2 linked regions of the Homo sapiens genome follow. The protein of the gene in region 1 purifies or fractionates together with the protein of each later gene. This does not show direct contact. Each region holds a gene or a part of one and is shown on either strand. Other genes may lie near its edges. The genes, in order: DSC2 and OLFM4.

Region 1 (3,831 bases):
ATGCTAAGGATGTAATATATACTGAATATGATGAACAAACCTATGAATAACCTCTCCATGGGGCTGACCAAGAGTAACTCTTGATTTGGGAAATTCAGTAAGTAAATAAAGGCTCCTTGACCCAAACACAGAAAAACTGGGCTAGGAAAAGTCTGGCACTGTCCCAGGGGCATCAAAGCTGTGCTAGTTTTTGAACCATTTAAAGATATTGGTTACAAAATAGATATTGTATTATATGGACTTTTTAAAAAAAAAAATACCTAAACAAAAGATTATCAAAAACTAATATATTCTTTCCATTGTATATGAAGAACAGAGCATTTGCATTTACTTATATACCTATTTTATTCTACATTTATCAGAATTCCTTTCTTTCCATTAAATTCTAGCATGCTATTCTATGATATTATAAACTACAAATAATGTTCTAATTTATTCTTACCTTAACTACACAAAGAACTCCTTCATTGGTTTTGGCATCTGTTACAATTTTAAAATTGCCATTTTCATTGCCCTTTAAAATGGTATAATTAGCTCTCCAGTTAGCAGTATTCACTAAGTCCTTATCCTCAACAGTAACTCGTAAGATTTCCACATCAACTGTATTTTCTTCCACTGATGTCACATACTAAAATAATAAAAGCAAACAAAAAATTTCGTTAGTAACTCTCACAAAAATTGAACACGATGTGAAGTAAATCCTACTCTTCTAATTTCCAAAGTACTATGTTTACATGATTTGAAACCCTAGCACTATACAACTTTTAATGTCACTGGGGCACTTCATTTGAAATCATGAGGGGTGGATGGGGATGTGCATTTTTTTCTTTTCCTTCACTGCAACCTCTGCCTTCCACGTTCAGGCGATTCTCCTGCCTCAGCTTCCCGAGTAGATGGGATTACAGGTGCCTGTCACCATGCCCGGCTAATTTTTGTATTTTCTGTAGAGACGGGATTTCACCATGTTGGCCAGGCTGTTCTCAAACTCCTGACCTCAGGTGATCCGCCCGCCTCGGCCTCCCAAAGTGCTGAGATTACAGGCGTGAGCCACTGCGCCAGGCCAGAGATGTGCATATTAAACAATTAAAACTGGTCTATACATTTTTCTTTAATTAATATCATACACTTACAGAAGTACGAGTAAATGTTGGCAAGTGGTCATTTACATCATCAATGTTAATGATACAAGTTGAAGTTGTCTGTAGACCAAAATACTGACCATCCATGTCTTGTACTTTTATTTTCAACTGGTACTTGTCAATTAACTGAAAACAAAAAAAGAATTTAATTATTGGGGGAAAGCACCAACATTATAATTGAAATCTTACTTTACACTCCATAATTTTTTTGCACTAAGAATTTAAGAAGTGCATTATTACATTTCACAGCATTCGTGTATTAGAAGAATTTTCTCTCACTAGTAATTTTTCTTTTCTTTTCTTTCTTTTTCTTTTCTGAGACGAAGTCTCGCTCTGTTGCCCAGGCTGGAGTGCAGTGGTGTGATCTTGGCTCACTGCAACCTCTGCCTCCCGGGTTCAAGCGAGGCAGGAGAATCACACTAGGAATTTTTAATCAATTTATGAAAATTGAATAGTTTCTCAAATTTATAGTGCTATTAACTTACAGAATATAGATTCAATTGGTTTTGTCTTTATTCAACAGAAAAAGAAGAGCTATTTGCCACAAGTGCATTTAAAATTGCCTGGTAATTAATCAAAACCTTTATCTCCTAGCCAAAGTACATTCTTATGTTCAAAAAAATAGACAGCAATGACTCTTAAAATAGTCTTTTAACAAAACAATAAAATGAAATTTCTTCCTGCAAAAAATATAGATTTTAAGGGTTTATGTTACATTTAAGAGATCATCTAAACTGACATGAAGATAAAGGTCTGGGGCTATGTAGGTTTTTTTCTTTCTGTGGAAAATAGAATCTGGCTCTTAAGGCTTTCAATTTATCAGATATTGTTGAAAACTCATCACTACCTTAAAAAATATTTTTAAACATCTGAAGCATTTAAATATTTTAAAGTGTTTCTCCTTATAACTTTCATTTATCATAAGTGATTGAGATATGGGAGAATTAAAAACAATACAGTAATAATGCTTTCCGGACTGAGCATTAGGAGACTTGGGTTCTATTTCCAACTCCAAAAATAAGAGACACAATCTTGGGCAATTGGAAAATTCACTTTGTCTAGGTTTCTTCTTCTATAAGATGGTGATGCTTACCTTTCCTACCTAATTTATCTCTTTTCATAAGACAAAATAGCATGTTAAAATCTATCCTCATCTTCTACCTAGAATGTTCACCCTTCTCTTACAAAGATTCTTCCCTTAATTCCATCATCTCTGAAACTTTCTTTTCCTTAGGCATTATCTAAAATAAAACTAAAGTTTCTCTTGATCTTCCTGCTTTTAACACACATAATTTTCCAGATTTACTCCTCCCTCATAACCAATCACATGTGTAGACTTGAAAAATAATGGCCTTATTTCAACTGAAAAATTTTAAAACATCATGCTACTGTACTTTCAAGAAGGAATACATATTTTGTTTGTAGTGAACTAAAATTTATTGGAAATAATTAACTGGCTAATGAAACAAGGAAATGAAGTTTGATACCCTAAGTATTAACTTATGCTATCTTCAGATGGAAGAGAAATTCTGATGTTTAAAGGGACTAAAAGGTTGTAGGCAACTGAAGAAAACCGGAATCCTGAGGTCAAAAAGTTACTAGAGAGCACCACTGGATAAACACCTTCACTGGACAAGTGTTTTCAACTGATTATTTCAGAAGAATCTATTCAAAGAAAAGCACTTCTGTGATTGTTTGATTTAGGAGCTGAACAAGCTGTTGAGTTTTTGCTTTTTTTTTTTTTCCATAGAATGCTATTTTCACATAGACATCTATGGCTATGCAGACTATAGTTTTATGAAAGTATTTTGTAAAACATAAAGTTAATCTGTCACTTCAGGGAAAACAACTATTTGTTGCCAATGATAAATTGGAGATTTCAAACAAAAATGAGAAGCTTGGAAAACCTTTATCAACCAATGTGATATCAATGGAAGTAAAGAGGTGATCTTTTTGATATTATTTAATGCAATGTGTCAATATTTGGAAGCTCTGCATTACTTGGTGAACCAATATTTTCCAAATGACCAATGCACAATATAGAATGATGTACTGGTAAAATGGTCACTCAAAGTGTAAGATAGAGCAATGGATTTTAACGTAATAAAGTACAAAAGGTCATTGTTGAGGATTCAGAGTCCACATTACCAAAAACATTTAGGAAACAAGCTACTCCTTATCAAGTATTCATGTAGTATCAAGGAATAATATCCACAGTGATCTGTAATTATCATCAAAATACTACTCTCTTTTCTAATTTTATATCATGTCAGATTGCCTTTATATATGCTTCAGCTAAAACTACATATTGTAACAGACTAAATGCAGAAGGAGATATGAGAATCCACCTGTCTTAAGCAAAATACTAAAAACATTTGGAAAAATGCATAACAATGTCATTCTTCCCACTAAATTGTACTGTTTTGGAAAATGTACTTATTTTGTAAGTACAAAAAGAAGAAAAAGTGTAACAATTTTTACTGTTATTTTATAAGAATTTTAACTGTTAACATGTAATTAATTTATTATTTTTAATATTTAAATTAATATATAATTTAAACTTTCCTTAGTTTTAAACATTAACAAGTAACATAGATAAATATAACCTAGATAAATAAAAGATCTTTGGGATTTTCAACAATATTTAACACTGTTAACAGTATTCAACAATATTTAACAATATGTAATAATG
Region 2 (3,831 bases), on another chromosome or scaffold:
TTAATGTGATGGTCTTTATCCACAGATCTTAAAAGGCTTTACAGAAATATACAAGAAATTTCTTAAAGGGGGTTTCCAGTTTGCAGAGAAGGATTCCAGGTTATTCAAAAGGAGAAACAAACCTAGCAATTTTACCACAATCAGGTATATTGTGGATTTCTAGTTCCATGAGGATAAATCTAGAGCAGAGAAGACACCTCATATAGCTTGGCCATGAACCGTTGTTCAACTTTATGCCAGCTCCTTTTCAGAGAAGTTGAAAGGGCATTTTATTCTGGGGCAGGATTCTGACCATTAGACAACATCTGCTCCTAAGTCAGCACATTCCCAATGTGCTTAACTTACTATTCAAACACATGCCCTTATCCAAAACAGAACATAGTGATATGCCATGTGGCCATGAGACAGTAGAGAATTAGAAGTTGGAAGAGATAGTTTCACTTCCTGGTACTAGTACTTGCTTACAGTCACTGAAGGGAGTTTATTATTAATTTACCAAGAAGTGAGTTCACTCCTTACCTCCACCTCCAGCTGGTCAACAATTTCTGAGCTTCCACCAAAACTCTCCTTCAGCTGTATGACCAGTTTTTCCATCTCCTTCACTTCTACCTTGATCAGCTCGAAGTCCAGTTCAGTGTAAGAAATGGTATCCTTCTCCATGATGTCAATTCGGACAGTTAGGTTTAACAGTTTCTTTTCATACACACTAATTAATTGGACATATTCCCTCACCTGAAAGAAAATCAAAAGGTTCAAGCCAATTCCCTGAGTAGTATCACACCATCTTCTTCCACTACCGAGCCCTTGAGTTGAGAACTATTTGATTCTTGCCAATCATTGTGTTTTGTAAATAAATAGATCAAAAATACATTTAACTAGATTTTTAAAATCTATCCATATACAAAGAACTTATTACTCCAATTGAAGGGAGGTAGATTTTATACTTTGCTAGGCTAAACATAATTTTGCTTCAGCATCATCATTTGCAGGTATATTTTAATCTCCATTTTTTAAAAAGGTTTTAGGCTCAGGGGTATATACCCAGGTTTGTTATATAGGTAAACTCATGTCATGGGGGTTTGTTGTAAAGGTTATTTTGTCTCGCAGGTACTAAACCTAGCACCCAATAGATTTTTTTGTTGTTGTTCCTCTCCCTCCTTTCACCCTCCACCCTCAAGTACGCTTCTGTTGTTCTCCTCTTTGTGTCCATGTGTTCTCATCATTTAGCTCTCATTTATATGTGAGAACATGTGGTATTTGGTTTTCTGTTCTTGTGTTAATTTGCTTCGGAGAATGGCTTCCAGCTCTCTATCCATGTTCCTACAAAGAACATGATCTCATTCTTTCTTATGGTTGCAAAGTATTCCATGGTGTATATGGCCCATATTTTCTTTATCCAGTGTACCATTGATGAGCATTTAGGTTGATTTCATGTCTTTGCTATTGTGAATAGTACTGCAATGTACACACACGCCCATGTATCTTTATGGTAGAACAATTTATATTCCTTTGGGCATATACCCAGTAAAGGGATTGCTAGGTTGAATAATAGTTCTTTTTAGTTCTTCGAGTCACCACACTGCTTTCCACAATGGCTGAACTAATTTACACTCCCACCAACAGTGTATAAATGTTCCCTTTCCTCTGCCATCTCACCAGCATCTGTTATTTTTTTACTTTTTAATGATAGCCATTCTGGACTGGTATGAGATGGTATCTTACTATGGCTTTGATTTGCATTTCTCTAATGATCAAGTGATATTGAGCCCTTTTTTCTTAATCTCCATTTTAATGTTTGAAGACATTAACTCCCCAAACTAAACTGGTTTGTATCATAGTCTCTTGCCATCTCTCCTCCCTTCAACACACTTACTCTAATTGTTTCTCAACCTCAGCACTGTTAGCATTTGGGACTGGATTGTCATTTCTTGTGGGGGTTGTGCTGTGAATTACACAATATTAAGCAGCATCCCTGGCTTCTTCATGCCAGTTGCATCCAACCACTCTCCAGTTATGATAACCAAAAATGTCTCTGGGCATTGCTAAATGTTCCCTGGGGACAAAATCGTTGCCACGGCCAACACCACCCTCCTTCCATTTAGAAACATGGCTCTACATCTAAGTATTTTCTGGAGAAGGGAGAAATGCGCTATGCCGAATTCCTTCTTTGATCGCCATATACAATTAGTTTTGATCCCCTCTGCCTTTTACAAAGTGGCATAGAGATCCAACCTACTACACAATATGTGAGTGTGTGTGCCCTGTAGAGTACACATTTCATTAAGTGCACCCACATTTATTCCAAGAACTGATTATTGCAATCAGACCTTTAAATTACAGATTTGTTGCATATATTTGAATGTCTGATCATTAAGTTAAAATACTTCCAAAAATTCCCTTGGCAGTTTAGTGTATAATTGGAATATCCAAGTGGATATTTTAATAAACACAGTTGGTGGTTCTTTCTGTGTCTGATCTCTAAAGAAAATGCCATGGCTTTTTTAAGGACCTGCTCATTAAATAAGTTGCTGGCTTTATATGCTTTTTAAAAATTTGAACTGAAGTGATACTTTTCCCAAAACTACACTAATATCAAGTAGCTGATCCACAGTGCCTGGATGAATTTAGAGCCAGATGTTGGCCTTTAATCCTTCTTATACCAAAAGCAATCCTAACTTCTGTCATTTCAGCCCTTCCACTTAACCCCATTGTGCAAATTAAAGTAGACTCATAGACCACAGACCTGAAGGGCTAGGGCTTCAGGCAAAAAGGATTTTAATGAAAGTCGAAAAAACAGTCCTTGGCACTGCTAGTGTATCTCCTCGGGCAACTGATGCTCACTGCCATTGGATGTACCATAACTCGGAGGATGACAAAGCTGGTGATATTTTGGTGGATAGGGAGGTTAAAACATATATACGGCCACCTCTTAGTATCCATGGTGGATTGGTTTCAGAACCTCCCAAGAATAACAAAATTCAAGGATGCTTAAGACTCTGACAGAAAATGGTACAGTATTTGCCTACAATCTACACACATCCTCCCAAATACTTTAAATCAAGTCTAGATTACTTATAATACCTAAAACAATGTAAATGCTATATAAATCATTGTTGTATTGTTTTTTATTTGTATAGTTCCTGTTGTTACATGGTTATTTTTATTAGTTTTTTTCCGTGAAATTTTTCAATCTGAGTTTGGTTATATCTGCAGATGCGGAACCAAGGCTATGGAGGGCTCACTATATATAAAACCTAACAAGTCCCCCTGAGAAGTGCACTGCAGATATAGGGCTGCCAGGTTCCAGTGTCTACAAAACTCAGGCATAAAACCTTGACTATGATAAAAATAAATAAAGTGCCAATCCATTACAGAAATGGAAGTTTGAGAAATAAATATGCTTGTTGGCATTTGGCCTTGCCAGCTCTTGGAACAAATGAAACACCCTCAGCTTCTCTGGAACATTTTGGTGGCACATCGCAGCTGTTGTTCTACAAAAATGAGTGATTCAACTGTCATCTCTGCTAAATAAAATGTGGTTCTCCTAGATTTTCACAAAAAAAAGCAAGGCATATTCTGGAGTTTGTTACCTATAAAAATGTGTGGTGTGCCTGCCCTGGTGCAGACAAAATGAAGGGTCTGTAAAGATCCATTTGAGGAAAAAACTCAAGGTTCTTCAGCTGACACTTAAAGGATGCTCAGTGGTGTTCAGGAAAATGGCAATCATCCATGGAGTTAGAGAAGACACAAAAGAGCTTGGGGATGGGCCAGAAAGACTTCAGAGTGTGAACTTTACTAATTTAAGTAAATCATTCATATGAACTTTTCACA

The links.
Region 2: the proteins of DSC2 (region 1) and OLFM4 purify together in Homo sapiens (co-immunoprecipitation; one large-scale study listed by IntAct). This does not show direct contact.

What each region holds. Positions count from the first base shown.
Region 1 is NC_000018.10:31,081,796-31,085,626, forward strand, and holds part of DSC2 (desmocollin-2 isoform Dsc2a preproprotein), read right to left. Parts: intron 1,266-3,831; coding exon 1,131-1,265; intron 629-1,130; coding exon 443-628; intron 1-442. UniProt on the Homo sapiens protein: A component of desmosome cell-cell junctions which are required for positive regulation of cellular adhesion.
Region 2 is NC_000013.11:53,038,811-53,042,641, reverse strand, and holds part of OLFM4 (olfactomedin-4 precursor), read right to left. Parts: intron 733-3,831; coding exon 520-732; intron 1-519. UniProt on the Homo sapiens protein: May promote proliferation of pancreatic cancer cells by favoring the transition from the S to G2/M phase. In myeloid leukemic cell lines, inhibits cell growth and induces cell differentiation and apoptosis.